Homo sapiens: one gene and its partners. The protein of the gene in region 2 purifies or fractionates together with the protein of the main gene of each other region. This does not show direct contact. Each region holds a gene or a part of one and is shown on either strand. Other genes may lie near its edges.

Evidence for each region.
Region 1: the proteins of TRAF3IP3 (region 2) and RGPD8 purify together in Homo sapiens (affinity purification with mass spectrometry; 2 studies listed by BioGRID and IntAct, with this or other methods). This does not show direct contact.
Region 3: the proteins of TRAF3IP3 (region 2) and RANBP2 purify together in Homo sapiens (affinity purification with mass spectrometry; 2 studies listed by BioGRID and IntAct, with this or other methods). This does not show direct contact.
Region 4: the proteins of TRAF3IP3 (region 2) and RGPD5 purify together in Homo sapiens (affinity purification with mass spectrometry, with the first as the bait; 2 studies listed by BioGRID). This does not show direct contact.
Region 5: the proteins of TRAF3IP3 (region 2) and PPP2R1B purify together in Homo sapiens (co-immunoprecipitation; 3 studies listed by BioGRID and IntAct, with this or other methods). This does not show direct contact.
Region 6: the proteins of TRAF3IP3 (region 2) and FGFR1OP2 purify together in Homo sapiens (affinity purification with mass spectrometry; 3 studies listed by BioGRID and IntAct, with this or other methods). This does not show direct contact.
Region 7: the proteins of TRAF3IP3 (region 2) and STRIP2 purify together in Homo sapiens (affinity purification with mass spectrometry; 3 studies listed by BioGRID and IntAct, with this or other methods). This does not show direct contact.

Annotation. Positions count from the first base shown.
Region 1 is NC_000002.12:112,423,051-112,427,486, forward strand, and holds part of RGPD8 (RANBP2-like and GRIP domain-containing protein 8), read right to left. Parts: intron 1,258-4,436; coding exon 1,190-1,257; intron 1-1,189.
Region 2 is NC_000001.11:209,775,948-209,780,383, reverse strand, and holds part of TRAF3IP3 (TRAF3-interacting JNK-activating modulator), read right to left. Parts: coding exon of another isoform or gene 4,260-4,436; intron 3,033-4,259; coding exon 2,897-3,032; intron 2,274-2,896; coding exon 2,211-2,273; intron 1,177-2,210; exon of another isoform or gene 1,070-1,176; coding exon 1,010-1,069; coding exon of another isoform or gene 981-1,009; exon of another isoform or gene 954-980; coding exon of another isoform or gene 931-953; exon of another isoform or gene 1-930. UniProt on the Homo sapiens protein: Adapter protein that plays essential roles in both innate and adaptive immunity. Plays a crucial role in the regulation of thymocyte development.
Region 3 is NC_000002.12:108,756,992-108,761,427, reverse strand, and holds part of RANBP2 (E3 SUMO-protein ligase RanBP2), read right to left. Parts: intron 3,016-4,436; coding exon 2,880-3,015; intron 1,484-2,879; coding exon of another isoform or gene 1,371-1,483; exon of another isoform or gene 1,315-1,370; intron 1-1,314. UniProt on the Homo sapiens protein: E3 SUMO-protein ligase which facilitates SUMO1 and SUMO2 conjugation by UBE2I. Involved in transport factor (Ran-GTP, karyopherin)-mediated protein import via the F-G repeat-containing domain which acts as a docking site for substrates.
Region 4 is NC_000002.12:109,828,198-109,832,633, reverse strand, and holds part of RGPD5 (RANBP2-like and GRIP domain-containing protein 5/6), read right to left. Parts: intron 1,318-4,436; coding exon 1,182-1,317; intron 1-1,181.
Region 5 is NC_000011.10:111,744,975-111,749,410, forward strand, and holds part of PPP2R1B (serine/threonine-protein phosphatase 2A 65 kDa regulatory subunit A beta isoform), read right to left. Parts: intron 3,041-4,436; coding exon 2,980-3,040; intron 1-2,979. UniProt on the Homo sapiens protein: The PR65 subunit of protein phosphatase 2A serves as a scaffolding molecule to coordinate the assembly of the catalytic subunit and a variable regulatory B subunit.
Region 6 is NC_000012.12:26,958,056-26,962,491, reverse strand, and holds part of FGFR1OP2 (FGFR1 oncogene partner 2), read right to left. Parts: intron 1,978-4,436; coding exon 1,864-1,977; coding exon of another isoform or gene 1,855-1,863; exon of another isoform or gene 1,741-1,854; intron 1-1,740. UniProt on the Homo sapiens protein: May be involved in wound healing pathway.
Region 7 is NC_000007.14:129,436,945-129,441,380, reverse strand, and holds part of STRIP2 (striatin-interacting protein 2), read right to left. Parts: intron 1,360-4,436; coding exon 1,290-1,359; intron 1-1,289. UniProt on the Homo sapiens protein: Plays a role in the regulation of cell morphology and cytoskeletal organization. Required in the control of cell shape. Calmodulin-binding scaffolding protein which is the center of the striatin-interacting phosphatase and kinase (STRIPAK) complexes.

The DNA of each region.
Region 1 (4,436 bases), on a different chromosome or scaffold from region 2:
CAGCAACAATTTCCCAAACAACAAAGGGAAATACATTTACCCTTTAAGCAAGAAAGTAATTTCTAACAGTACTATATCCAGCTAAAATCGAACAGAAGAAAAATTACTAATTACAGTACCAAATACAGGAAATTTCCATTTCTCAAATCAAGTAACAACTAAAATAAGTAAATATCCTCTAGGTTCCTTGACAGTATTACGATCAGAGAAATTAGGCCAGACCTAAACTAAGGGATTAAAGTCTCACAGTAAAAAGGTACAAGAGTTAACAGTCACAGTGCTGCTAGTTACATAATTTATGTACCACCATTTTCCTTTCTTACCAGCATTTCCATCTTCCTTTGGATGCCTTTAAAAGCCTGCCTCCCAGCTGGGAGCAGTAACACACACCTGTAGTCCCAACACTATGGGAGGCCGAGGCAGGCAGACTGCTGTGCTCAGAAGTTCAAGACTAGCCTGGGCAACATAGTGACACCTGTCTCTACCAAAAAATGCAAACCTTAGCCAGGTCCACGTGGTGGTGCGCATCTGTATCCCCAGCTACTTGGGGCGCTGAGGTGGGAAGATCGCTTGAGCCCAGAAGGCAGAGGTTACAGTGAGCAAAGATGGAGCCAGCTGCTGCACTCCAGCCGGAGCAAGAGAGACAGATACTGCCTAAAAAAAAAAAAAAGCCTGCCTCCCTCTTAATTTCCTGCTTTAATCCACTCCCAGCCAGGAAATCAGAATCACCAAGCTTCTTATCCCTAGGATAGAGCCTTACAGCATCACATATTGTGTCAATTAAAGATCTTTTATACAAGCTATTCTCCTGCCTTACAATTACAGTTTAGTTTTTTATTCATTGCTATTTTCCATCTGATTAAGGTATCAGATATCTAACCAAAAACAAATTAAGATATAGGCATGGTCCTCTTTTACTCCAACAGAAGACAATTTTTAGAAAAAGTGTTTTAAGCCAAACAATTTCTTGCCCTTGGTATAAAGCAGCAGCATGCAGAAAACACTAATTGCAGTTTCAATCTCAATGGAATCTAGGCTGGTCCTTAGCATCAGTCTGAGTGATAAATCCCTTATTCCAGAATACACTTAGGAAGAACTACTAAGAACATATTTTTACCTATTTCAAAGAAGAAAATGAGAAAAGGCATTGATTTTAAAAAAAAGAATACATGTTACGGTTTGTACTTACTTTTTAGCAAGATCATATTCTTTAGCTTCATAATACAGCTTTGCAAAATAGAATCCTTTCATTGACTTCTAAAAAAAAATTAAAAGTTGTTTTATGTTTCATACAGAAATATTTTCCAACATTTTTTCAAAAGTAGTTAAAGCCTGACAAATGCATAATTCCATGTTTTATAATTTCCTACCACAAAACAAAAAATAGAGCTGGGTGCAGCGGCTCATGCCTGTAATCCCAGCACTTTGGGAGGCCGAAGTGGGCGGATCACCTGAGGTCAGGAGTTTGAGACCAGCCTGGCTAACATGGTGAAACCCCGTCTCTACAAAAATAGAAAAATTAGCCAGGCATGATGGCGGGTGCCTGTAATCCCAGCTACTCAGGAGGCTAAGGCACAAAAATCAGTTGAACCCAGGAGGTGGAGGTTGCAGTGAGCCAGAGGTTGCAGTCAGCTGAGATCGTGCCATTGCACTCCAGCCTGGGCGACAGAGACTCCATCTCCCAAACATCATCATCATCATCATCATCATCATCATCATAAATAAGCTGGGTGCAGTTGGTCACACCTTTAATTCTATTTAATTCTAGCACTTTCAGAGACCAAGGTGGGAGGCTAGCTTTGAGGCCAAGAGTTTGAAACCAGCCTGTGCAACACAACAAGATCCTGTCTCCAGGGGGAAAAAAATAGCCAGGCATAGTGGAGCATGCCTGTGTTCCTAGCTACTCAGGAGGCCAAGGAAGGAGAATCACTTGAGCCCAGGAGGTTGACACTGCCGTGAGTTATGACTGTGACACTGCACTCCAGCCTGGGTGACACAGGGAGATCCTCTCTCTAAATAATAAATACATAACATACAAAAAATAAATTCAAGAAAGCAAGACAAGCAGACAACAGAAGTTAAGAATTTTCATCAGCCTTGGAAATCTCGGAAACCCTGTGGTACCACTCTCTCACTTAACAAACAAAAGAAACCAGCTTTCTTTGGGGAGGAAAGGTATTCCAGAAATCTCTTCTCCTACCATGTGTAAGCCTCTATGGGAAAGAATAAATAAGTACTTAGGATCTATTAAGGCACTGAGGATTCCCGGGTCCATGTACTGTTCTCTCTACAGATCAGATCAGTATTTTACAGTCAAGGAGTCAAAAAGGCAGAAATAAATATTGAATTCTTCAAGTAATAAACGAGGTCCACAGCCTGGATCCTTGGTTACATAAACTCCAAAGTCCAAAATGCTGATGCACACCAGGCTGGGTGCGGTGGCTCACACCTGTAATCCCAGCACTTTCGGAGACTGAGGCGGGTGGATCACTTGAAGCCAAGAGTTCGAGACCAGCCTGGCCAACATACAGAAACCTCCTTTCTACTAAAAATACAAAAATTAGCTGGGCATGGTGGCACACGCCTGTAATCCCCGCTGCTTGGGAGGCTGAGGCAAAGAATCACTTGAACCCGGGAGGCAGAGGCTGCAGTGGGCCAAGATCGCACCACTGAACTCCAACCTGGGCAACAGAATGATTCCATCTCAAAAAAAAAAAAAAAAAAATGCTGATACAACCAGAGTATGTTCCATCCATGTGATAGAGTATACAGCTACTCAAACATCTTATTTTTGAAATTCCAAGACCCCAGTGAATGTCCAAAACGATGAATAGTACCAAACCAGGTTGCCATCAATCGAAACATGTTTCCTGTTTGTGTCCTCCACCCACAAATTTAATGTCTTGTCCATCTCAACTAAGCACTTATCACACACTGTGGCTGTAACTTTTGCAGTTTGGGGTGTCACAACAAAACTAGCACAAATTTCTTTTTCCTTCTTCACAATTTCATGGACAAAAGATTTGTTCTTACCATAGATCTCAGCAACCCCAGTATATGATCTTTTTTCTTTCCTAAGTCAAAAACTCACCTCTTCACTTAAAGGAAGCACTATATGGCTTCTCTCTGGCATATGTGAACTGCCAGCATCGCTATTCTTGCTCTTTGGTGCCATTTTAAATAAAATAAAGGTCACTTGAACACAAGCACTGCAATACTCCAACAACTGATCTGATAACTGAGGTGGCTAGTATGTAACTAGCGGGTGGGGAGCACATACAGCATGAATATGTTGGACAAAGGGATGATTCGTGTCCTGGGTAGGACGGAGCAGGAGGCCGTGAGATTTTTATCATGTTATTCAGACCTGTTTGCAATTTAAAACTCATGAAATGTTTATTTATATAATCTTCCATTCAATATTTTTGGACCACGGGTGACGCAGGTAAGTAAAACCACGTAAGGCAATACTGTGGATAAGAAGGGACTACTGTACCAGCAACGAACAATCAGAAAATGAAATTAAGAAAGCAATTCCATTTACAATCGCATCTAAAAGAAAAAAATGCCTGGGAATAAATGTAAACAAGGAGGTGAGAGACTTGTATGCTTAAATTACAAAACCTTGCTCAATGCCAGGCTAACACCTGCAATCCCAGCACTGGCGACAGAGCAAGACTCCGTCTCAAAAAAAAAAAGAACTATAGCAATCTTAACAAAAATAATACACAACAGTCAGGACAGCACATAAAGGAACAAGTCCTGTTCCCCCCTTCCTTTTTTTTTTTTTTTTTGAGATGGAGTCTTGCTCTGTCGCCAGGCTGGAGTGCGGTGGCTCGATCTCAGCTCACTGCAACCTCTGCGTCCCGGGTACAAGCTGGGACTACAGGCGCACGCCACCATGCCCAGCTAATTTTTGTATTTTCAGTAGAGATGGGGTTTCACCATGTTGGCCAAGATGGTGTCGATCTCTCGACCTTGTGATCTGACTTCTTCCGCCTCCCAAAGTGCTGGGATTACAGGCATCAGCCACCGAGCCCGGCCAGTTCCCCCTTTTCAAAATGAAGAAATAGATTCAAGGTACAATGCCAAAACATAATAGAAAAATAATTCCATTACCTTCTTTGCTTCCAACTATGTTAAAACATAATAGAAAAATAATTCCATTACCTTCTTTGCTTCCAACTATGTTATTAAAGTAGACAATCTTAAGATAATTAAACAACTTTACAAATTATTCTTCTATATGATCTTTTGCCTCTAACCTGCTCACTTTACAAGGGAACTGAAGCTCAAGCAGACAAATGCCTTGTTTAAAGATATACAGCTAGAAAGGAGCACAGCCCATGTTATGTAAACAGGACAATATCTGATGCAAGCAGTACTTCTTTACATGACAGCAGATGTCACTATAAGCAAATACCTGAATTCACTTA
Region 2 (4,436 bases):
AGGGGAGGGAACTTGGGAGGGCGTGCTCTTGGCTAGACTGATGGCATTCTCTGACATAAAGGTTAACTTCCAGTAGGCCCCTGCTAAGCTTGGACAGACAGCTGGAATCTGAGCTCCTTGAGGGCAAGATTGGGATCTTTTCTTTGTATCCCCAGTCTTATCTAGTGCTAGATAGTTTTAGTGAATACTTCTTAATTGAATTTCATTGGTTGTATGTCACATTCTTCCTAGTTTGTCAAATAAGTTTGGTAAATGCTTTAATACAATCCCTTTTCCCTGATGTCCTCATTTGAAAGTTGTGAAGATGGCAGTCATATCCTAAAATTTATCTTCATATGGTTAAAGATGGTTTTTTAGCCACCCTGCAGTCTTAGTCTTGGTGAAAAGAGCATGGACTAGGAGTCAGAAGTTTTGGATTGTTGTTATAGCTGTGTTGTTAGTTTGTGTCACCATAGACTTTCATGTTCTTATCCATACTCTGTGAGCATAAAAATTTCTGCCTTATCTATTATATTATGCCCAATGATTGTGAAGAGAAAACAAAAGGTCGTGTGTAGTGGACAGGTGAGGAGCTATTGCCCCTCTGTATACACAGTGAATTCTCAGGAAACATGGACAGTAGACTCTCTAGGGCTAACAGTGAGTTGACTCTGGACTGCTATGTGGTTTGGGGCTGGGGAGTTGGATGTGATTTGGAAAATCAAGTGTGTAAAAATTGACATGAAATCCTGAGTTCAAAATAAATTTATTGAAATGTTCAACACAGACATGTGCTTTCAGAGAGAATAGAAACCCTTTTTCACAGTTTATATACCTCAAGATAGAAGGCTAACTAGTTGAAGTGTCCTCAGAGCCAATGATCAGTCCTTAAAAAGCTCCCACACATCCCGGACTTAACAGACTCCCAGAACTGGCTGGGACTCCAGGAGGTCATGTAGTCCATCCCGCTGCCTCTAGGCAGGTAAGAGAAGAGCAATATCTTAGAATTTGTGGTAATAAATTTGCTGACCTTTCTTTGTTAAGAGTTTCTCCTGTTCTTGAAGCTGTAAGGATTGATTTTGAAGCAAACCTGTTGGAAAACACAAGGAACTTGTCTATGCTAGCATATTTACTACAAAAAGTTTTCTTTTCAGAACTTTGCTTAGAACCTTGGTTATTAAATATGTTCCCATCTGCTGTGTGTTGAATTTTGTCCCCCAGAATATATATGTTGAAGTCCTAACCCTCAGTACCTTAAATAATGACCTTATTTGGAGATAGATTCTTTAAAAGATAATCAAGTTAAAATGGGGTCATTCAGGTGGGCCCCAATCTAATATCACTGGTGTCCTTATAAGAAGGGGAAATATGGACACAGATATGTTCATGGGAAAGACAATGTGAAGAGACACAGAGAGAAGACGGCCATCTACAAAGCCAAGGAAAGAGCCCTGGGATAGATCTTTCCCTAAACGCCCTCAGAAGGAAACAACCCTGCTGACATCTTGGATTTCTAGTCTCCAGAACTGTGAGACAATACATTTCTGTTCTTCAAGGCACCCAGTCTGTGGTACTTTGCTATGAATATAGCATCCTTATATCTCCCCCTACCATGTCTCTATCTTCAAGTCTTTGCTTGAAGATTTTCCCTTTTCCCTGTGGTTGCTTTGCTCTCTTAATAATCATTGCTGCTTTCATGAAGCTTCTCTATCAGGTGTCAGAGGTTAAAGTGGTGGGCAACCAGCAGCTGTATTAATTGAGTCAGGTTCTCCAGCTTTTCAGAAACTGCTTTTCTTCTGAGAAGTCCCTTTTCCTCTTTGGGCCCAATATGTAGTTTTGAAGTGGATTGAGGCACGTATAGTGTAAGCTTATTTTCTAAACCATCTCTAATGACAGGTCTATGTGACACATTCATGTACATAAATTAGAATATATAAAATAAGAACTGCTTTAGGAAACCCAGTATTTAAAAAAAATCTGCAGTTCTAGGGGAAATGTAAGTGGTGTCATTGGCATGGAAGGAGAACAGTAGAAAAAAAAGAACAGAGGCTAACACATAATTTATGGAGAGCTATGTAAATGACCTCACTTTACAAGAAGAGGGTCTGAAAGTGCACAGAGTTAGAGCATATGCCAAAGACTGGGCCCTTAGTCCCTACTCTGGGTGCCTTTTGTGGGCCAGGACCCCAGGAAAACCCTGTGGACTTTCAGAATCTGGAAAGCGAACTTACCCTGCAACTGCTGTACTCTGGTCACCAGGGTGAGTTTCTCTGCCTCTGACCTTTTTAGTTGATCTGAAAATGCAATAATGCAAGCCAAAATAAAGGAACCCAAGACTTAATGAACTCAGTACTTAGGATGGAAATTAGTAATAGATGCTGTCTTGTCATGGTCTTTAACGTGTGTCTATTGGAAGTTGCTCTATCTTCGTGTCCCAGTTCTGAAGAGGTAAACCAGAAGCCAAGTACCTCAGGTTTTTGTGCATCAACAATGTTGGGTTGCATTGAGGCTTGTGTTTACACACTATCTAGTCCTCTCTATCAGCGGACACAGAGGATGTGACTGAGAGACTTTCTCTATGCCTTGTGTTTCAACTGACCTTTCCCTTTCAAATTAGGACTGTGGCCTTGACATATGTGACTGATGTGGGAGCAGCTGTGATCTGGCCCAGAGGGATGGGCTAAAAAAGAGAGCTCAGACAACAAGATACTCTATCTACTACAGTGAAATTAATTTTCAATTTTGGATGATTAAAACAGTCCTGCCTCTCCCTCAAGGTAAAATGAGATTATAAAGCCAATCAACCAATCAAGCAAACAAATAAAAGGCTGAAGCCTTTCTCTTAATTCAGTTTCTTTTTTCTTAGCTCACTTGGCCATGGCTGCCATGCACTCAAGGCCTCCAAGGAGAAGAGTACCTTGTAGGTCCTGGGTATCCAAGCTGCACAGGTCTCTGTCCCCTTGCAGGCATTCAATCTTGGCCTGCAGTTGCTGGTGCTCATTTTCCAAAAATCGCAGGGCCTGGTTCATCTGTAAGTCCCTGCTATCTGCTCCCTGTAAGGAGGAGGAAGGGCCAATATAGAAGGAGGTCAGTGTTGGGGTGGAGGTTGGGGGGCGGGTACCATGGAAGAGGAAAATGTAGAAAAGTCTGGAATTTTAGAGATAGAAGGAATGTTAGGGAGATGAGAAAATAGAGAAGTCTTTCTTTTTTCCTATTTCTTCCCTTTGCTTTGTTCCTCATATTTATAACAGCAGATTAGACTTTTGATATTCACAAGGAACTCGCGTCTTTTATTTATTTATTTTTATTTTTAGAGATGGGGTCTCACTTTGTCACCCAGACTGGAGTGCAGTGGTGCCATCATAGCACATTGCAGCCTCGACCTCTTGGGCTCAAGCAATCCTCCCATCTTAGCCTTCTGAGTAGCTGGGACTACAGGCATTTGCCAGTAGTTTTGAAGTGGACTGAGGCATGTGCAGTGTAAGTTTATTTTCTAAACCATCCCTAGTGACAGGTCTAAGTGACACATTCATGTACATAAATTAGAATATATAAAATAAGAATTGCTTTAGGAAACCCAGTACGTTAAAAAATCTGCCATTCTAGGGGAAATGTAAGTGGTTGTCATTGGTGTGGGAGTCATGTCTTGACACTTTGGTAAATCACCAAATTAAGGAATACAAAGTCATTAGTTTTCTGGATGTTTTCATTTTCTCTTTTTTCTACTTCTGGCAGTATCAGTTTTTTTTTTGGTTAGGGTCTTTTTTTTTCCACAAAGATTTAAAGTTAAAAAACCCCTCACAAAAATCTTCATAGGAGTTGCCTTATAGGTGATGGGAAGAAGAAAACAACAAAGGTTGAGCTGTGGATACCACGCAGAGTGACCAGCTGGGTTCACTCCTTTGATAAGACTCACATACTCTGTCTCTTATCAAGTGGGCTGTTCTGAGCCCTGCTTCAGGAAAATTACAAAGATCAGCTTTTGAGGTGGATCCTCAAAATTCCAAACCAGGTAAATAAATCTATGCAAAATAATAGCTAATATTTACTGAGTGTTTTTGTGTGCCAGGCATTGTGCTAAGTGCTTTACATGGATCATCTTACTTAATACTCAGAACCACCTTATGATGTAGGTACTATTATCCTCATTTTAGAGATGGGGAAACTGAGGCTTAGGACAGATTGAAGATGATGGAACCCTTGAGGATGCCAAGAATCTAATTGTAATTGCTAAATGTAATTGCTTAAAATACACATTGGCAGAAAGTGTTAATACTCACCTGTAAATAAATTAGTGACATTCTTTCTTTGCCAACAGTGGGCAATTCTGAACTGGATGCTTTTTTGGGATGGAGTTTGGAGAGTGGGTTGGGAGATGACATTAGTAGGCTGATGAATATTCCAGCCAGTTCTTTTCATTTGGGTGGTGATGGTGTCATTCCAATGAACGCTTAGTT
Region 3 (4,436 bases), on a different chromosome or scaffold from region 2:
ATAGTTTTACCAGAAAACAACCAAAAGACCTTTTATGCCTGTACATGGAAAAAGAAACAGAAACTGTGCCAAGAGGTTCCAAACAATTGCCTCTGGAAAGCACTGAAAAATCAAGACCTAGAAAAGGCTAGCCAGAAGCCCAAGTTTGATTTTGGAAACCTTACAGAGGTGAGGATAGCTATTTTGAAATTACTATGGGGAGGAAGCAGGCACAGAACACAGAACAACCTGACAGAAATGGCCCAAGAATCTTAAAGTCTTGCAAGATGTCTGTCTGCATGAAAGCAAAAAGAAAAAATAAAATATTAAATAAAAAAAAAATCTTAGTCTGAAGTTTAAGTAGGGACTTTAATTGACTACTGACTCTAAACTGTGCGGCTCTAATAAATCTACTAAAAGTAATCTAACTTTTAAAAGCACCATATGAATAGACAATTTAGGAAAGAAATGTTAATAGGCCTCAAGGAACATGTTTTTGAAGTGAGCCTTGAAAAATCCGCAAAATGATGAGGTTGCATTGGGCAAACTGAAGCTATTATGAGAATGTTCAGGTCAAAAAAATTACCTGACAAATTCATGCAAAGGAGATCACAAGGAACACAAATGTGTTCGCGGGCTTTAAAAAAATCACATTAACATTCATGTTGATATACAAACTCTTCTCCATCTGTTTTGTGTGAGTTTTACCAAGAAACCAAACAACTGGGAGGTACCCACGTTGAAGATGGCAAAACTACCAACTGCCATTTGCATGAATTGTTGACCATGACTAGTATTAAAAAAACTTAAAAATTGATATCACTTTTGTTCCTACAAATTGGCAAAGGATTTTATAAACCAGTAAGTCAGCATTAGCAAAGTGCGAAAATGGCACTATCAGATACTAGTGGTAAGAGCATAAACTGAATATTCTGAATACCCTATAAAACTAGGACAGTGTCCTAGAATTTGTAATGGCATAAACCAGAAACAACATAAATAAAGGAACAGAATTTACAGTACTTCCATGTGATGGGATACCATGAACTCATTAATGTTCAAAAAACATTTAAGTTTAAAAATGCTCAGAACTAAAGTAACATTTAAAAAACAGGCTAGCTCATCTACACACAACATAGTAACATGGTAACAATCTCATAAAAAATACTATATGTATAGAGAAAGAACTAGAAGGAAATGCTCTCAAATATAGGAAATGTTAATAAGGTGGTTAGCTTTTAGTTTTCTTCACCCTGTTCAGTACTTCTGAGTATCTCCTATGAGCTCATTAATCTTTAATTTTAATCATCTTATTTTTAAAAAACAAGGACCATCTTGATATATGTTTACTTTTATTAAGGAAAAAGAATCTATGAACACAGGAACAGAAATCAGGAGATCTTGGCTCTCGCCCTTTCAGTGCCACAAAGCTGTTTTGTGAACCTGTAAATAATCCATTTGGAGTCTCCATGTTTCTCAATTGTAAAATGAGGATGTGCTGCTTCTACACATTTCACAGGGTCATTGCAAGAATAAAATGAGACAATGAGAATGTTGGATTTACATGCTTGTATAAGAACAGAAGATCTTTTATGCCTGTACACAGAAGAAATGGAAATCATGACCCACAAGGCACCAAATAACTGACTGCACACATCACTAAAAAAGCCCCAGGAAAGGCTAGCCGGTTTGTTTATCCTCTTACAAGGACCTATATGATGTGTAAGGTTTTAAGAAAACAAGGTTTGAACGTTAGACATTTCATATACTTATCTATGACTTATGACATTTAATAAGCTTGATTTCACAAAGATTTTCTGTTATTTTGCTTGTGTTGAGAAGATACTATCACAAAAGGCTAGTGGGGTTGCCTTAACTATATGAACCATCACACAAATGTGCTCATCTAAACTAGATTTTATTCTAAATCTTTCCTGGGCTAAAAAGAGAAAAAAAAAGGGCACTACTACTACTACCATTTCAGAAGTCTGTCGTACGTAAAAGGAACAATTTTGTTATTTCTCGCTGCCTGGGAGCAATGTATTATACTGGCAAGTGCTTTGGAGTTACACCACCGGAGTGTGAATCTCAGCTCTATCAATAACTAGCTGTATAATAATGAGTAAGTTACCTAACCTTTCTTTAATTTCCTTATTTATAAAAAAGGGATTAATAATGGTACCGGCCATTCTAAGTTACTGTAATTAAATAAAATTACATTCACAAAGCACTTTTGCACATAGCCAACCCACAGTAAACACTATTAGTAACCTTAGTTCATTAACTGTTTACTGTATACTCTAATAAATGTCTGATACACACCCACGCCCACCTGCACATACACAAATGCTCATAGTAATTATGTAAGGCAAGTATTATCTCCACGTTTCAGACAGGTTATCTTACACAGCTATTATAGTAAGTGATAGAGCAGAACTTAAAAACCCAGTATGATTCAGGTCCAAACTCCTTTTCTTTCTTTATATAACCATAATATTTCAAATTAAGTAAGATTTCCTATATAACGTCCTGCCTCTCATCATTATCATCAAAATAATTCCCCAGAGGTGTAGGTTCTTAATTAAGCATTTCTTAGTGCATAACTCTATTCATTAACATTTTTCAATTTAAGGAATAATCTCATCTCAGCTCATCTGAGGTGTGGATTAAGTGTTCTTTAAGCCTTTATATACACGTGATCACATACGGCTCGTTTTTTCTGCTTGGGATTATAAAAATCTCCGTAACACCAAATACAGCTTTTGAAGTCACATATAAACAGACGTTGACATGTATATTAACAAACATATATAAACAAGGTGATTTCACACGTTATCTACTTAAAAGAGGGAAGTAAAGTAGTTTTACTAAAATATGCGATTATCCACTTGCCAGCTCACCTGTTAGTGGAGCCCCATGAAATGTCTGTGACCCCTGATATCCATCAGGCACTGAGTCTGGTCCATAATTCTCTGTGGGCCAACGATGAGGGGATGCTGAGTTACTGCTATTTAGTTTCAACTCCTGCATTTCTTTCTATTGGAAGAAAAAAAAATCAAATAATTTTAAACATTTAATTATATCATGACAGAAACAGTGCTGGGGAAACTTACTCTTTTAAATTTAAATAACTGATTTTTTTTTTTTTTTTTGAGATGGTGTCTCGATCTGTCGTCCAGGCTGGAGTGCAATGGCACAATCTTGGCTCACCGCAACCTCCACCTCCTGGGCTCAAGCAATTCTCCCACTTCAGCGCCCTGAGTAGCTCGGATTACAGGCGTCAGCCAGCACGCCTGGCTAATTTTTTGTGTAATAGTAGAGATGGGGTTTCACCATGTTTGCCAGGCTAGTCTTGAACTCCTGACCTCAAGTGACCCACCACCTCAGCCTCCCAAAGTGCTGGGATTATAGGTGTGACCCACCACGCCCGGACCTGATTATATCTTTTGAAAGTTTCTATTTGCCAGTGAGTTCTAGGTACCTGGTGCTGATTTTAAAATATGATTCTTAATTTGTTAAAAATTTATCTGCTCCCATTTTCATTTATTAATACAAAACCTAATTTATTAACTCTCACCTAAACAAATAACCTCCTAAATGATCACACCTTCATTTCCATTCTACACTTGCCTACATTAACCTTTCTGACGTTCACCTCCAGCCAAGACAATTCCCTGCTCAAAAAAACAAGTATCTACAAACTAAACTTCTTTCCTCAACTTTCACAGTCCTCTAACATTACACTGACCATCCTTTCAGTGTGTTCTTTCTGCACTGCAATCTGGACTACCTGACATTCCGCGTTACCTCCCCAAATTAGCTTTTCACTTAACCCCATGCTGAAACAAAATACAACTAATTCTCAAGGTGATGTTCAAATGCTCCACCAGGAAAGGGAAAAAAGTAGTAGCTGCAGAGAATTTATTATGTATATAATAATACGTCCAATGCACTTAAACTCTTAATTTTTATACTATCTACACTGTTAGGTAAACAATATTAGCTCCTATCTTAAAATGAGAGAAACGGATGCAGGGAATAACAGCTGGAATTTGAACCAGATCTGACTCCAAAAATGTTTTCTTAACACAACTCTGCTGCCTTGACAAGATGGCAGATAGATACAATGCCGTCTAGTGTAGCTATGTGGCTACCTCATCTCTGCTGAAGAAAACTAAATGACAGCACCATACCCAACCCTAGAACCTACAAAATGTCCCCTTACAAAACAGACACTTAACAGGAAATTCTTTTTCCAAAGAAATTGTAGTGGTATCAGAAAACAGGTAAATTTTGAAAAGTTTCAAACTTCTCTGTATCAGCCCAGGAATCCGACCAGTTCTAACAAGTGAGGTCAGGGACAGATCTAGCATGTCTGCTTTCTTTTTCTACAAGTGTTTCAATTAAAAATTTCCCAGAAAGACCTAACCATGAGGTCCAAAACTATCTCAATTTTC
Region 4 (4,436 bases), on a different chromosome or scaffold from region 2:
TGTAAGGTTTTAAGAAAACAAGGTTTGAACGTTAGACATTTCATATACTTATCTATGACTTACGACATTTAATAAGCTTGACTTCACAAAGATTTTCTGTTATTTTGCTTGTGTTGAGAAGATACTATCACAAAAGGCTAGTGGGGTTGCCTTAACTATAGGAACCATCACACAAATGTGCTCATCTAAACTAGATTTTTTTCTAAATCTTTCCTGGGCTAAAAAGAGAAAAAAAAAAAGGGCACTACTACTACCATTTCAGAAGTCTGTCGTACGTAAAAGGAACAATTTTGTTATTTCTGGCTGCCTGGGAGCAATGTATTATACTGGCAAGTGCTTTGGAGTTACACCACTGGAGTGTGAATCTCGGCTCTATCAATAACTAGCTGTATAATAATGAGTAAGTTACCTAACCTTTCTTTATCCATTTCCTTATTTATAAAAAAGGGATTAATAATGGTACCGGCCATTCTAAGTTACTGTAATTAAATCAAATTACATTCACACAGCACTTTTGCACACAGCCAACCCACAGTAAACACTATTAGTAACCTTAGTTCATTAACTGTTTACTGTATACTCTAATAAATGTCTGATACACACCCACGCCCACCTGCACATACACAAATGCTCATAGTAATTATGTAAGGCAAGTATTATCTCCACATTTCAGACAGGTTAACTTACACAGCTATTATAGTAAGTGATAGAGCAGAACTTAAAAACCCAGTATGATTCAGGTCCAAACTCCTTTTCTTTCTTTATATAACCATAATATTTCAAATTAAGTAAGATTTCCTATATAACGTCCTGCCTCTCATCATTATCATCAAAATAATTCCCCAGAGGTGTAGGTTCTTAATTAAGCATTTCTTAGTGCATAACTCTATTCAATAACATTTTGCAATTTAAGGAATAATCTCATCTCAGCTCATCTGAGGTGTGGATTAAGTGTTCTTTAAGCCTTTATATACACGTGATCACATACGGCTCGTTTTTTCTGCTTGGGATTATAAAAATCTCCGTAACACCTAATACAGCTTTTGAAGTCACATATAAACAGACGTTGACATGTATATTAACAAACATATATAAACAAGGTGATTTCACACGTTATCTACTTAAAAGAGGGAAGTAAAGTAGTTTTACTAAAATATGCGATTATCCACTTGCCAGCTCACCTGTTAGTGGAGCCCCATGAAATGTCTGTGACCCCTGATATCCATCAGGCACCGAGTCTGGTCCATAATTCTCTGTGGGCCAACGATGACGGGATGCTGACTTACTGCTATTTAGTTTCAACTCCTGCATTTCTTTCTATTGGAAGAAAAAAAAAATCAAATAATTTTAATCATTTAATTATATCATGCCAGAAACAGTGCTGGGGAAACTTACTCTTTTAAATTTAAATAACTGATTTTTTCTTTTTTTCTTTTTTGAGATGGTGTCTCGATCTGTCGTCCAGGCTGGAGTGCAATGGCACAATCTTGGCTCACCGCAACCTCCACCTCCTGGGCTCAAGCAATTCTCCCACCTCAGCCTCCCGAGTAGCTGGGATTACAGGCGTCAGCCAGCACGCCCGGCTAATTTTTGGTATAATAGTAGAGATGGGGTTTCACCATGTTTGCCAGGCTAGTCTTGAACTCCTGACCTCAAGTGATCCACCACCTCAGCCTCCCAAAGTGCTGGGATTATAGGTGTGACCCACCACGCCCGGACCTGATTATATCTTTTGAAAGTTTCTATTTGCCAAAGAGTTCTAGGTACCTGGTGCTGATTTTAAAATATGATTCTTAATTTGTTAAAAATTTATCTGCTCCCATTTTCATTCGTTAATACAAAACCTAATTCATTAACTCTCTCACCTAAACAAATAACCTCCTAAATGATCACACCTTCATTTCCATTCTACACTTGCCTACATTAACCTTTCTGACGTTCACCTCCAGCCAAGACAATTCCCTGCTCAAAAAAACAAGTACCTACAAACTAAACTTCTTTCCCCAACTTTCACAGTCCTCTAACATTACACTGACCATCCTTTCAGTGTGTTCTTTCTACACTGCAACCTGGACTACCTGACATTCCAAATCACCTCCCCAAATTAGCTTTTCACTTAACCCTGTGTTCAAACAAAATACAACTAATTCTCAAGGTGATGTTCAAATGCTCCACCAGGAAAGGGAAAAAAGTAGTAGCTGCAGAGAATTTATTATGTATATAATAATACGTCCAATGCACTTAAACTCTTAATTTTTACACCATCTACACTGTTAGGTAAACAATATTAGCTCCTATCTTAAAATGAGAGAAACGGATGCAGGGAATAACAGCTGGAATTTGAAACACATCTGACTCCAAAAATGTTTTCTTAACACAACTCTGCTGCCTTGACAAGATGGCAGATAGATCCAATGCCGTCTAGTGTAGCTATGTGGCTACTTGATCTCTGCTGAAGAAAACTAAATGACAGCACCATACCCAACACCCTAGAACCTACAAAATGTCCCCTTACAAAACAGACACTTAACAGGAAATTCTTTTTCCAAAGAAATTGTAGTGGTATCAGAAAACAGGTAAATTTTGAAAAGTTTCAAACTTCTCTGTATCAGCCCAGGAATCCGATCAGTTCTAACAAGTGAGGTCAGGGACAGATCTAGCATGTCTGCTTTCTGTTTCTACAAGTGTTTCAATTAAAAATTTCCCAGAAAGACCTAACCATGAGGTCCAAAACTATCTCAATTTTCAAGCTAAATAAAATTTCCCCCATTCATCCATCTACAGTGCCTAGTCCAGATGCTACACATACACATCCAAGAAATAAGAAACTAGTGGAATCACCTAGAAAACTTTATAGTCACTGTTGGTATCCGCACCAGAGCTTTGAATTTGCAATCACTGCTGTAACTGTAATTTTTAACATTCAGTGTGATGAGAACTGGCTTCAATAATTCTCTCATTTTAAAGATAAGAAGCCAAACAGTCACAAAGGAAGTGACTGGCCCAAGATCATTAATTAATGGCAGAGTCAGTACTAGTACCAAGCTTTTCAAGCTCATGGACTAGTGCTCCACTATACTTCCACAGAATACAATGTTGGGAGCCTGAAACCTGTATGTTAAGTCAAAATTGTATGTAATTGTCATAGGCCACGACTACACAGAATTAACATTCAAAATTTTTGTGCAAATTCAAAAATGTCTTCCCCACCAAATAGTATTCTCTTAATTTGCAAATGCTGCTGATCACACTGTAATAATCGCCACACATCAGCATATCCTTGATGTAACTTTAGCAGTATGAGTAATTTAGTTCTTGCTTGATAAACATGAAAGAACCTACTTTTATTTCCAATTCCAAAAAAGTCAAGCTCCTTTGAACCCTATTGTTAAAATAAGATATATATACATAACTATTTCCTTACATAATTAAGTCAAATTCATATGGAAGTATTAAAATATAGTAAGACTTTTTGAAGCTCAGACCACTTTTCGATTCCTAGCTATACATTTGAAACACATGTAATCCACAGCTAATCTGGGAATGAACTCATAGACCAGAGTATGATTAGTACATTGTAGCACTTCAATCACTCGGGAACCTTCTCTGTGTCAGGAACTCTTATATTTTAAATAAAACAGTTTCTACCTTTGAAGGTCTCAAATTTTGTGGAAGATGAGGAGAGAGACACATAAAGTACTTTCAAAAATATGGTAAAGGGCTGGGTGCGGTGGTTTACACCTGTAATCCCAGCACTTTGGGAGGCCAAGGTGGGCAGATCACCTGAGGTCAGAAGTTCAAAACCAGCCTGGCCAACATGGTGAAACTCTGTGTCTACTAAAAATACAAAAATTAGCTGGGCCTGGTGGCGGGTGCCTGTAATCCCAGCTACTCGGGAGGCTGAGGCAGGAGAGTCACTTGAACCTGGGAGGTGGAGGTTGCAGTGAGCCAAGATCACACCATTGCACTCCAGACTGGGCAACAGAGTGAGACTCCATCTCAAAACAAAACAAAACAAAATATGGTAAAGGGTCAAGACCGAGGTATGTAGGCTGGGCACAGTGGCTCACACCTGCAATCCCAGCACTTTGGGAGGCTGAAGCAGGAGGATTGTTTGAGCCAGGAGTTCAAGGCCACCCTGGGCAACATGGCAAAATCCCATCTCTACAAAAAATACAACAATTAGCTGGGCCTGGTGGCATGTGACTGTCTGTAGTCCTGGCTTCGTGGCAGGCTGAGCCAAGAGGCTCTCTTGAGCTAGGAGGTTGAAGCCGCAGTAAGCTGTGATCATACCACTGTACTCCAGCCTGCACAACAGAACAAGACCCTTGTCTTAAAAAAAAAAAAAAAAGACCAAAATGTCCCCTTGCCATACTATTTGGATGGCAAGGGGACATTCTGACCAGCTTCAGAAAAAAAGTGAGAGAGTAGCCAGG
Region 5 (4,436 bases), on a different chromosome or scaffold from region 2:
CTTTGGCCCAAACCCTTCCCTGTCCTCCCCACTAAAGAGGAGCTAGCTAGAGTATTTGTGTCTTCTCCTCTAATTTTTTTTTTTTTTTTTTTTTTGAGACAGAGCCTCACTCTGTCTCTCAGGCTGGAGTGCAGTGGCGAGATCTCGGCTCACTGCAACCTCCGCCTCCTGGGTTCAAGCAACTCTCCTGCCTCAGCCTCCTGAGTAGCTGGGATTACAGGCGCCCGCCAACACATCCAGCTAATTTTTGTGTTTTTAGTAGAGACAGGGTTTCACCATGTTGGCCAGGCTGGTCTCGAACTCCTAACTTCAAGTCATCCACCCGCCTCAGCCTCCCAAAGTGCTGGGATTACAGGCATGAGCCACCATGCTCAGCAAATTACTATTTTTTTTAACACGCTTTAGATTTTTATCATAATGCCATTACCATAGGAAGGGATCTCTACTGCCAGAAAAACCAGAGACTGGGGAACACACATGCATAGCCTTGACCAAGACCTTAACTGCACTGAACTCTACTTGGCCAGATGCCTACTATGTTCTTGGTTCCTCTGACTGTTTTCAGAAGAATGCAAACCATTCCAGAGTTCTGCCTGTTTTCTTTTGTCTATTTCTGTCTCTTTCTCTCTCCCCATCTCCTCTCAAGGCCTGGCTGACCTGCAAGGTTTCTTTGAATGTCTATCTATGCTCAATAACTGATACCTTCTCCTTTCTCCTATAATAAATAAATAAATTTCCCTTCTACATTCCTCCCTCTGATCAAAACTGTCTACTCAACCACAGGAATATAGGTGAGTGATACTTTCTTCCTTATACTTCTCTGGAATTTTCACAATGTTCTTTTAGTAGTTACCTAACTAGGGGAAAAGTTTCAAAAACTCTAACTGATCCAGTGATCATTATATAACACTTATCTGAAATGCAAAAGCAAAAAAGCTCCTGTGATTAAGTACAAAACAATTTCAGAGCTGTTATTTCATTGGTTCATGGAACTCTTGCAGTCCCCACTTCAGCATGCTGCTGCAGTGAAATAAACAAGGGTTTCTCCTGCTCCCAAACTGAAAGAGAAAATCCGAAAAGAGGAAGGAGTAATCAAGTTGCATAGAGAAGACAATCTTACAGAGAAAGGGTGCCAGGAATTTAATTCTTTGTGGAATATTAGAACTTTAAAAATTCCTCAAAATAAAACACCATCTTAATCTAAAATGCCAACTTTTAAAGAAAGCATAGAATGACTTGAGGCCAACCCAAATGCCCATCAATGACAGACTGGATAAAGAAAATGTGGCACATATACACCACGGAATACTATGCGGCCATAAAAAAGGAATGAGTTCATGTCCTTTGCAGGGACATGGATGAAGCTAGAAGCCATCATTCTCAGCAAATTAACGCGGGAACAGAAAACCAAACAGTACATGTTCTCACTAATAAGTGGGAGTTGAACAATCAGAACACATGAATACAGGGAAGGGAACATCACACACTGAGGCCTATCAGGGGGTGAGGGGCGAGGGGAGGGAGAGCATTAGAACAAATACCTAATGCATGTGGGGCTTAAAACCTAGACGACAGGTTGATAGATGCGGCAAACCACCATGGCACATGTATATCTATGTAACATAACAAACTTGCATGTTCTATGCATGTATCCTAGAACTTAAAGTAAAATAAAATTTAAAAAAGCACAGAATGATTTGCTAGGATGCACCATTCCCAGTAACGTCAAATATTTATCAGATATAACATAAACATTTTTTTTAAAAGTGGTATTTCTTTCCTATGATTTGCCAAATTTTAATTTTATTTAAAAAGAAATAAATAGGCCACAATAAGATAACTTTAGAGAAGAAAAAGAGAAAGAAGTCTACAATCCAGTTTGAAAACACTGGAAATACCCACATATATAAGCCCTTATACATTTTCACATATTTTTTCACATCCTTCCTCTTCACACTCTTAACCATATGATCCTCCATATGATGCAAACATGCCTTTAACAAAACCACCCACACGTATAAGCAGACACAAATATCCTCATTCCTCCCAAATTTCCAGGCATAAGCACCCATAGATGAACAAAGAGATACACTAAATACATATATCAAGTATATAAAAGATACTGTGGAACTGACTCAGGTTATCTATTATATCCACCAAAACATGGAAACAAAGCTCAAGGACAATGTCACATGACCCCATAGGGGCACTCACACTCATCGAAACAGGTCTAAGACAACACTGAAGCTGTCAAGTCTGGACCTGGGATCTGGCAGAGACGGTACATCTGTCACCCACTGCTGCCTGGCACACAAGGGGATACACACATATACCTCTACCTGAAGCCTCACCAGGAAGTCACTTGCTCATTCCTGCTGTCCTATCTGACCTGCCCTGAGCTCACCCTCTCCTAGCACTGTAGCAGCAGCAGTGAGAGTACAAGCAGTAAGCCTTCCTTTCACCCAAACCAGAAATCCAGGCCCTCTCTCTCCCTATGGCAAAGCTAGTGTTTCCCACACCTAAGAATCCTCTACTGTCTCACTGTAGATCTCCTCTTCTATGTCACCTCAAAAAGCCAAGTAGCCATTTCTCCCACCCAGGCCTTTCATCTGATTCCAATCTCCATACAACCTAGTGTATAGCTGCTGAAGACACCAATTACAGGATGGTCAAAAAGAGGATCTTCAGATAAGGGAGGAGTAAGTAGATATATAAAAGAGATGGTCTGAAGATAATGTAATAGATTGAGTAAGAAAATAATGCAAATAAATTGTTTAATGGAGAAAATAAAATCGAAGATACAAAAAATTGGTAGAAACGTCAAATTTATATTCAGAAGATTAAACTTTAATTAGAGCCTTTCTTCATTCCTACAATATTAAGGCAAAATATCTGGTCAGACTGAGATTCCTTTCTAAAAGGAAATGTATGAAAATCATGGATATATGGGCTTTCAATAATCTGTTTTTATCTACTCACCATGGTCCACGAGCCAAGCCATACATAAAGAATTCAGCTTTTCATCAAAGAATTCCACACCCTACAGATACAGAAGATTCCATTAACATACATTGCCAAAATTCAGAAATAAAGATGGTCTATTTACATTACACCAAGGTTACCTGAAGGCTAAAAAAACTTGTTTCCAAATAAACAAATAAGAGATAGAAACACCACAGGAATTACAAACAAACCATAAATCTATTTATTGGACGGAAATCATAAACAAAAAAAAAGCATACGTGAGCTGGCATAGGCCCTGCTAGGTAAAAGAGAACAGGGTGGCCAGAAGTCAGCCACAACACTGCAAAAGAGCAGGAAGAATGCACTGTGTATGGTCTGCCAAGCAAATCTGGATTACCTGTAAAAATGAATTACCCAGGAAAACACCTGTCAGTAATATTACTAATTCTCAATCGTCTTCCCTTTTTGGTTACTATTATGACAAATCCTTAAGGATAAAGCAACTGACCTCAAGACATAGAGATATCCCCAGTTAAAGAGAGTATTTTCGAGACAACAGGAGAAAGCCCTGGAGGGAGAATAAAGCAGGCCCAGGACTACAGGGCATATGGCCCAGGCATGGCTTGCTCTCCCAGCCCTGTTCCTCCCGACTGTCAACAGGTGGCCACTTCAGTGCAGGCTGGGGATGGGCTCCGGGAGCAGATTTACACAGTCCTCTAACCCCGGGGCTTCCACACCACATGGAGAATGCTGTGACACACTTTCCTAGTGCCTCCCTTCTGGGGTCTACACATTTACAGTCTTGCTTCTTTGAACTCTAAGAAGTTCCTGACTGGTGATTCTATATTTTAAAAAAAGAGAGGTAATATAATGTGTCAGTGCTTTGAAAATAGTGATTGAATAAGACAAAATAGCTTTTTTTTTTTGAGATGGAGTCTCACTCTATTGCCCAGGCTGGAGTACAGTGGCACAATCTCAGCTCACTGCAACCTCCACCTCCCGGGTTCAAGTGATTCTCCTGCCTCAGCCTCTCAAGTAGCTGGGATTACAGATATGCAGCACATGCCCAGCTAATTTTGTATTTTTAGTAGAGACAGGGTTTCACCATGTTGGCCAGGCTGGTCTCTTAACTCCTGACTCAGATGATCCGTCCGCCTCAGCCTCCCAAAGTGCTGGGATTACAGGCATGAGCCACCGCACCTGGCCCAAAATTGCTTTGTACTAAAAGATCATAATGAACAAATTTTGGCATACACTTAGATTACGTCAGCCAAGATTTCTTTTTCATTTCAGGTTGAGAATTTTCCTTCAGTTTTAATTAACTTTTATTTTCCAGTTTGTTGTTGTTGTTGTTGTTGTTGTCGAGACGGAATCTCTCTCTGTCGCCCAGGCTGGAGTACAGTGGTGCAATGTCAGCTCACTACAACCTCCGCCTCCTGGGTTCAAGCAATTCTCCTGCCTCAGCCTCCCAA
Region 6 (4,436 bases), on a different chromosome or scaffold from region 2:
TATAGACCATTATTCACAGCAACTGAGAGGTATTTTATCATATTAAGCCTAAGACTTAAATATAAAAGTGAATAACTCCCCAAATAAACAGTCTCTTCAGTAGTTGTGTATATATATATTTGTAAAAAGGATTTAACAGTACTCCAAGAAACCCACGGAACTAATAAGCTGGAAGAAATGACAAGGTAGTATCTTTGGCAAAGCACATTTAATAACCTCTTAACCAACAAAAATGTAGGTCCTTTTCATGGGGAAACCTATACACTGCTAGTACTCAGCAAGAAGGTACTCTAAAAGGCTAATCTGTGCTGTCCAAAACAATGTTAAACTTAATTAAAATCAATACATTTTTAAAAATTAACAATTCAGTCCCTCAAACGCATTAGTGACACTGCAAGTGCTCAACAGCCACATGTGGCTACTGGCTTCCACACTGGACAGCACAGATAAAAAACATTCCAATCATTTCAGAAAGTTCTACTGGATAGTTTTGAATTAGATTATGGTAGGAAGAATGATATTAAGACAAGTATCTGTCATATTCTGCAAGTTAACCATTAAAATTCCTCCCATTGTCAAGGAAGCATAATATGTAAAAGCAGGTTAAGTACAGATCATTGCAGCTGCAAACTGAGTAAGGGTAATGAGTAAAAACTTTGAATACCAACAGCATCCTCAATTTATGATTTGGTCAGTCCTATGGCACTGACCTAAGTTAAAAAACTACACAGAAAGCAAGCATTTCTTTTTTTTTAGACAGAGTCTCGCTCTTGTTGGCCAGGCTGGAGTGCAATGGCACGACCTCGGCTCACTGCAACCTCCCACTCCCAGGTTCAAACAATTCTCTTGCTTTAGCCTCCCGAGCAGCTGGGATTACAGGCACCCGCTATCACGCCTGGCTAACTTTTTGTATTTTTAGTAGAGATGGGGTTTCACCATGTTGGCCAGGCTGGTCTCCAATTCCTGACGTCAGGTGATCCACCCACCTCAGCCTCCCAATTACAGGCATGAGCCACCATGCCTAGCTGAAGCAAGCATTTCTTTGCCTTTAAAATAGAAGGAAAAAAACTACTGATTTTTTCAGTACCAAGTCTAACAAAGCTCATCATGAGAAAAAACCCAATACTTCAAATAGGGCAGCACTTTTATAAAAGGTCATGGTAATGGTTCACTTATTTAATTATAAAATCTTCAGAGAAGTATCACAGATTTTTTAACAAGCACAAGAGGCAAGATCTGTGCTTTCAAAACTGTCTGGAAGACAAGAAGTGTCACCAACATAACCCTTGAACTGTCTTGAAATGTCTTTCATTTCTAACTCCCTGTCTAGGTTTATTCCTCCTTTATTCAATAAAGACCTGCCACAAGTGAGTTAAAAAAAAATTAAGACACAATGGAGAGAGCACTACTATACTTAATCCTAACATCTAAACAAAGGCATTTTAATTTCATTTGCAAAATCAAAGGACTACAAACTATCCACAATCTGAATTAAAACATTTAATACTTTGACCTTATGAAATCAGTTTAAAATTAATGCCAAGAAAATATCTTTGATGTCCAGAAAGGAAATGACTGTTTCACAGCAACAACTAACAAGAGCAAATAAATAAAGCGTTGGACTGAATAACCTATAAAACCTGCAAATATCTAACAGGCTGTACATGATACAATACACAGAAAATTAATGAGAGATTTAAAGTTTCTACACTGAACAGCATGGCTATTAAAGACACAACATTCTTTTAATAAATTTCATTTATTTGCTGATCTAATCTGGGAGGGAAATTCAATGTAAAAGCACTTTTAAAATGGACCCCCCTTCCATCCACACCCCAAAAGTTGACTGTTTATTTAGTGTACATTCTGATTTGCTTCCAAGTGCCTTCTCTCCAGTCCATGTTGAGGTGCTTCAAGGATGTGTCGAGATGCATCAAGGAAGAATCCTTCGGACTTGTTACGATGTACCATGTCAATCTGTAGTATAGAGTCATTATAATGTTAATACGGATATCATCCGTAATTTAAAAACTGAATGAGTGTTAGTTCATGCGTGTTAGCCAACTGTTTGAAATGTTTGCTTTTTTAAGATTTCCAAAAAGGCATCTGTTCAAAAATAACATGAAAATTAGTATTTGGGTAAAAATGAGCTCTCAAACTTTCTACTGATTTTTTAAGTATGTGCTCAAAAACTTCTAGTTAAGGGCAAAGTTCTGTATTATAACAGTCTCAAAAGGATCTCTTACTCCAATCCAAAATGCTGTTATGTGTAACTCTGTTTCTTAGCTCTAAATGTGTTGTAAAATTACTTTTGTGTTTAGGCATATCAGAGCACTAGTACCTAAACACACCCTACAATACCATACTTTTTGTGCTTTTATTATACAAGTTTCTCTGCCCACCCACCCACTTCTGCTTGTTTACCTACCTGCCCATAATTAATTCAAGGCTGGACTGAGACAGACTTTCTTCCCTTCCTTGTTACCTTTCCAGATTTTCCTTATGACAGTTAATATTGTTCCCTCTAGCGTTCCAGTAACAATTCATCTACTTTGGGATTCATCACGCCCTACCTTATAGTAGATTGTTATGTTTGTGTCTGTATCTCCCACTATACTGCAAGCTTGTACATTCATCTTATTATTTCCCATAACTAACCCAGTGCCAGTATTAATGTTTGTTTAATTAAGTCGAAGTGTCTCCTTTTTGGGAAAAATCAAAATCACAAACATTAATATGTATTAGTGAAAATTAATAACAAATAACTGAATAGTCATTTTATGGGAGGCAAGGATCATCTGAACTTAGATGAAGAATTCAATCTACATAATAAAAAAGGATGGCTTACAGCTATCTTAGGAAATGTTTAACCTTACTAATTAATAAACCAGCTCTGGTGAATAGTAAAATCTAATATATTTTAGGAAACATTTGCTTCTGTCATAGTTGCTACCAGATGGGACCTGCAAGCTATAGTTATCCTATTCTAAGCACTTTTTTTGTAATGGTATTCTTCGCTTTAGATCTTTAACATTTTATTTTTAGGTTATAAAACATACAAACCTTTTAGAAATTCTCAAGATTATATTTATCTTACAAATAATATTAAGTCAACTCCTTTTAGTGCCTTTAAAAAGTCTTAGTTACTATAGTTATTATTATACCTTTAAATTTAAATGATTTTAGAATGGTCTCATTAACAATAGTTAAATTTTGTATTCAAAAGATCACCACTTAAACATCCCTGGATTGCCATTTGATTAGGAGATGAATAGCATAATTAGAAAACATTAAACACAAATTTTTAATTTAATTTATTATTTTACTGGTTGACACAAGAGGTACCTATCATTAGGTTTTCTAATATAATAAAGGCATATAAAGAGCTATTTGATAGGTATTTAATTCTAATAGAATTAATTACTAATAAGTTAAAAACACGTACAAGCACCAAAATGGAAGAAGTATTTTAAAGAATCTAAAATGTGTTTCAATAATAGATAAATATGAAAATATGTCCTTTCCTATTTCTGTTGTAACAAATGGGGAAAAGAAGGCTCATAATCACTGTTTCTTAAATAATATTGGTAATAATAATAGTCAGCTCACCATTATCTAATACAGGTAACAGTCTAGTTTCCACAATCTAGTTTATTATTTTTATTTCATATCAGCAACTAAAACTCAGTTTAAAATAAATATGTGAGAAAGGATTATTCTACTTGTCTTCATAGCAGTTGCCATAAAATATGCCATAAAATATGGGGACATACCAAAGGGAATAGACACAGGGATGACAAAGGGATGAACAGCAGGTAAAACACTAATTTCTAACTACTTCAGCTTTGTTTCTAAAAAATGATGTCAACTGGTATACAATACTGGGGCAAGGGAGCAAAATTTTACTATGTTGGTTCTTCTCCTGAACCCCATGTTTTTTCCATTATAATAAACAAGATCATTTATAGTCTGGATGAATTAGCCTTATTCAGAAAACAGTCTTAAGAAAAATCTACATTAAACTGCTTTCAGATTTTAAAAAAGGTTTCCATTATTTTTTGTTTTTGCAAGAGAAGTCAATACACAAATTTATTAGAAAAAATGTTTCTTAAAAAAATTTCTGTTTTTTAAGAGACAGGGTCTCACTCGGTTGTCTAGATGGGAGTGCAATGGCATGATCGTAGCTCAATGTAACCTCAAACTCCTGAGCTGAAGTGGTCTATCCACCTCAGCCTCCTGAGAAGCTAGGACTGCAGGCATGTGCTACCACACCCGGCTAATTTTTTTACTTTTTGAAGAGATGGAGTCATGCTATGTTGCCCAGGCTGGTCTTGAACTTCTGGCCTCAAGTGATCCTCCTGCCTTGGCCTCCCAAAGTGCTGGGATTATAGGCGTAAGCCACCATGCCCAGCCCTTTAAGAAATATTTCTTAAAAG
Region 7 (4,436 bases), on a different chromosome or scaffold from region 2:
CTTTAGAGTGGATATCTAGGAGTAGACTTGTTGGGTCACAATATGTGCACATCTTCAACTTTGCAAGATATAAGCAAAATGCTTTTCAATTTTATACTCTGCTCCCCCCATGTCTAGCAGTGCATAAAAGTACTAATTTCTCTGCACCCTCACCAACCCCAGGCTTTTAAGTTTTGCACTCTGATGATTGTGAAATAATATTTTATTATTTTAATTTGCTTTTCCCCATATACTAATAAAGTTCAATATCTTCTCATATATTTATTGACCATTTGGCTTTTTCTTCTATAAATTCCCATTTATATTCTTTGCCCATTTCTTTGTTGGGTTGCTCATCTCTCTCCTCTCTTTAAAATATATATATATTTATATCATATTCCTATTATGAATTCTAATCCTTTGTTGGTTATTAAACTTAGCTCTCTATTTCTCTGTCACTCATCACAAAATTTATTCTCTGTGCTCATGCACAAGAACGTCTTTAAAATTGTTTGTCTCTTTTCTCTGAAAAAGCATGCCTCAAAGTATCACTTCCATGTGACAGAATATTTAAATTTCACACATCTCCACCCAAAGCTTGTTTATTAATAACTGGCATTCATAGCACATGTAACATGGAGGCCCTTAATGTGAGGAGATCACATTTACCCTAAGCTAAAAATCCAGACAGAGACAAGCAGGCCAGCACTGAAAGAAGAATGGAATTACTTAACCCCAGCTCATAAACATCCAAGCAGAACTCTACTATGATGGATGCAGGTGACATGTCCAGCCTTGCTCAGCTGGCCAGTTGACTATAGTTTTTCCTCGGACTTTGCTGAGATTTTAATAAGGGGCAGTTGCGAGAGGAAGAAGGAAAAGATGGAGGTAGAGGAGACAAAGGAAAAAGAGATGGCATGGGATAGAAAGAGGGCAGCAGAAAGAAGTAGGCAGGCAAAGATATGGGTGACAGGAAGAGAAAAAGAGAAGGAATATGGAGAAGATGGAGAGAAAACTGATTTGAGAGTGCACCAAATCAGTTATTTTCAAAGAGAATAAAGAAGAGTGAGCAGGAAAGAGTGATAGAATGACAGAATGAAGAATACCATAGCCAAGGAGAATCACAGAAGGAAATGTGAAGACAAACAAAGAGATATTTACCACTTGGATGGAGAGGAAAAGGAATGTGGAGAACAGCCTTTGTTCAACAGCCACTTGGTGAGAACAGACAAGCTTCCAGGGAGATCACAGGCCCCTTCCCTCTCCTCCTGGCCATTCTTCCACTAGCTACTGACCCATCTACCTCATACCTGACAACTCGGCTGCATGCCCATCTGCATCTCCATACTCAAACTCCAGAGTGGGACAGTCCACAGAGCCCTGTAACAGAGAAATTTTGTTGGTAACTGGGATAACTTGGAAAAAGGGGTTGCCAAGGGAAGACTGTACCCTTATTTATCTTCTTCCCCTCATGGAGGCCAAGGTTAGATCAGGGAGACAGTTAGGAGAGTCCTATTTGGGTCTTTCATCTCAGAGGTACCCTACGCCAAGCCAAAACTTGAGTCTCAGTGTGGGGAGGGGCTGAGGATTCCTATACAAAATCGGAAAGTCTGAATAAAGGGCCAGGATCTCAAACATATATGAAAGCTATGGTCTGTGTCCATATCTAATCTACATGAACACAGACCAGAGGAGCATCTAGCTGATTTATATAAAATTGAGACAGACAGAAACAAAGAGAACTGGATTCTAGCTTCAGTTCTGTCATCAACCCACTGTATGATATAGATCAAGTCTCATGCTGTGGATCATAGTTCCTTATTTTTAAAGAGGTTCTTTAGCTCTAATATTCTGCAACTTTAGGATTGTCAAATGATGCAACATCTCCACTCCAAGTTGTAGTAAAGATTACATTTCCCATGACGTTGTATGTATAAATTTATAATCCTAGTAAATATGTTTTAATATAATCCCATCTTCTAACTTAAACATTTTGGGATATTTCCTTCCTGTATATGTTCATACATATGAATTTTTAAAATTTTCAATCTCAGCTCTGTCACATACTATTTGATCTTGGACAAGTTAACCTCTCTGTGCCTCAGCGTGACATAAAAAATATACTGTTCTTTGCCCCTGGTTCCTGGTACAGAGCTCCTGAAACTCTTAGAAGTTCCTGAGTGATAGGAGTGTCAGTTATTCATAATGAGTCACTGTCAGCTTTACCAGAATTTATGCTCATGAGGTGACTTATGTTAGGAAAGACGGAGCACATGATTAGAGGGTTTAACTTTCAGCACCACCCCCACATCCAGGGAGGGGAGGGGTACTACAGATTAAGTTCAGTCATGTGGCCAATAGTTTAATTATGTCTAGGTAATGAAACACCATAGGAAAACCCAGAAACAACTAGGTTCAGGCAGCTTTTGGGTTGGGGAACAAACAGATGTGCTAGGAGAGTGCTGCCCAGGGAAGATAAGGAAACTCTGCATCACCCCAAACCCATACTTCGTCCTTCGCATCTCTTCCATTTAGCTGTTTCTGAGTCATATCCTTTATAATAAAATTATAATTCTAAGTACATGCTTTCCTGAATCCTGTGAGTTATTCTAGCAAATTATGGAACCTGAAAGGAAGATCATGATAACCGCTTAATTTGTAGTTGGCCAGGCTGAAGTGTAGATAGCTTGGGGATCCCACCTATGGCTGGTGTCTAACGTAGGGCCTTGTAGGACTGAGCCCTTAACTTGGGGGTCTGTGCTAATTCTAGGTAGTTAGTGTCAGAATCGAATTGAACTGTAGGACATCCAGTTGGTGTCAGCGAATTGTTGGAAAATGACCTGCTCAGTTTTCCCATCTGTAAAATGAGGATAATAACAGGACTTACTTCATAGGGTTATTTTAAGGACTAAATGAGTTAATATAGGAAAGGCACACGGCCTAGCACTTCGTAGCACTATGTGAGTGGTCACTCTATGATTTTAATATTATACTATAAAGGCATTCTTCTCACATTATTATGACTATTAGTTTAAATGGTTGTATAAATGGATGTACATTTATTTGTTTACTTAACTAGTTCCTTATTGAATATTTAAATGGTTTTTAATTTTCCTTTATTATATGCAACAAACTGTAATAGACTTACACTTTTTTCTATATTTAGGATATTTCCTAAGCATAGATTTTTATAAAGAAAATTAATGAATCAAATCTTATGAACATTTTAAAGTCTCTTTGTATATAAGTTGCTCCCCCAAAACATTATGCCAATTTATACTGTCAACAAAGCAAATTGGCCGGGCGCAGTGGCTCACGCCTGTAATCCCAACACTTTGGGAGGCCGAGGTGGGCGGATTACGAGGTCAGGAGATCGAGACCATCCTGGCTAACACGGTGAAACCCCGTCTCCACTAAAAATACAAAAAATTAGCCGAGCATGGTGGCGGACGCCTGTAGTCCCAGCTACTCGGGAGGCTGAGGCAGGAGAATGGCGTGAACCCGGGAGGCAGAGCTTGCAGTGAGCCGAGTTTGCGCCACTGCACTCCAGCCTGGGTGACAGAGTGAGACTCTGTCAAAAAAAAAAAAAACAAAAAAAAACAAGGCGAATCATGTTTTAATCCACTATAGCAAAGATTTCCAAACTTTTGGATTAAAAGGAACAGTAGGGAAAAAGAAAAAGGTGGAGAGTGGCAAATGACATAGGGTTGTTGCTGTTTTATTCTGATAGGTAAGGACTTTAAAAACTTTAAAAAATTCAAAAAATGAAAGACAGAATCTCAGAATAAAGAACAGCCATTAAAAATTGTTTTTCAAACTTTTTGGAAAAATGATACCTTTTACATTACGTCCCAGCACACACACACACACACACAAACTGGAACAAAAGTTTAACAAAATATTTACCTTTACTGCATGTGATGCAGTGATATTTTCTATTATTCTCTTTCTTTTCTTTTTTTTTTTAAGACAGGGTCTTCCTCTCACCCAGGCTGGAGTGCAGTGGCATGATCACAGCTCACTGCGGCCTCAACCTCCTAGACTTAAGTGATTCAGCCTCCTGAGCAGCTGGGACAACAGGCGCGCACCATCATGCCTGGCTAAATCTTTTTTATTTTTTATTTATTTGTAGAGATGGGGTCTGCCTACATTTCCCAGGCTTGTCTCGAATTCCTGGCTGAAGCTACCCACCTGCCTCAGTCTCCCAAAGTGCTGGGATAATAGGCATGAGCCATCATGCTGGCTTTATTTCTTAAAATAAAAATTTTAGCCTCAATTAACAGGTTGCCCCCTATAGCAGTTTGAAAAACACTGTTTTAAATTGTATACATTCTTAAATTTAATATATTGAACTAAATTTTTAGAAAAACTCACTTCGATGACCTGAATTTTCCTCATTTTACCACAGACCAGTTAAAACTTTGTCAAGGAGTTTGAGATCAATAAACCAGATCTGG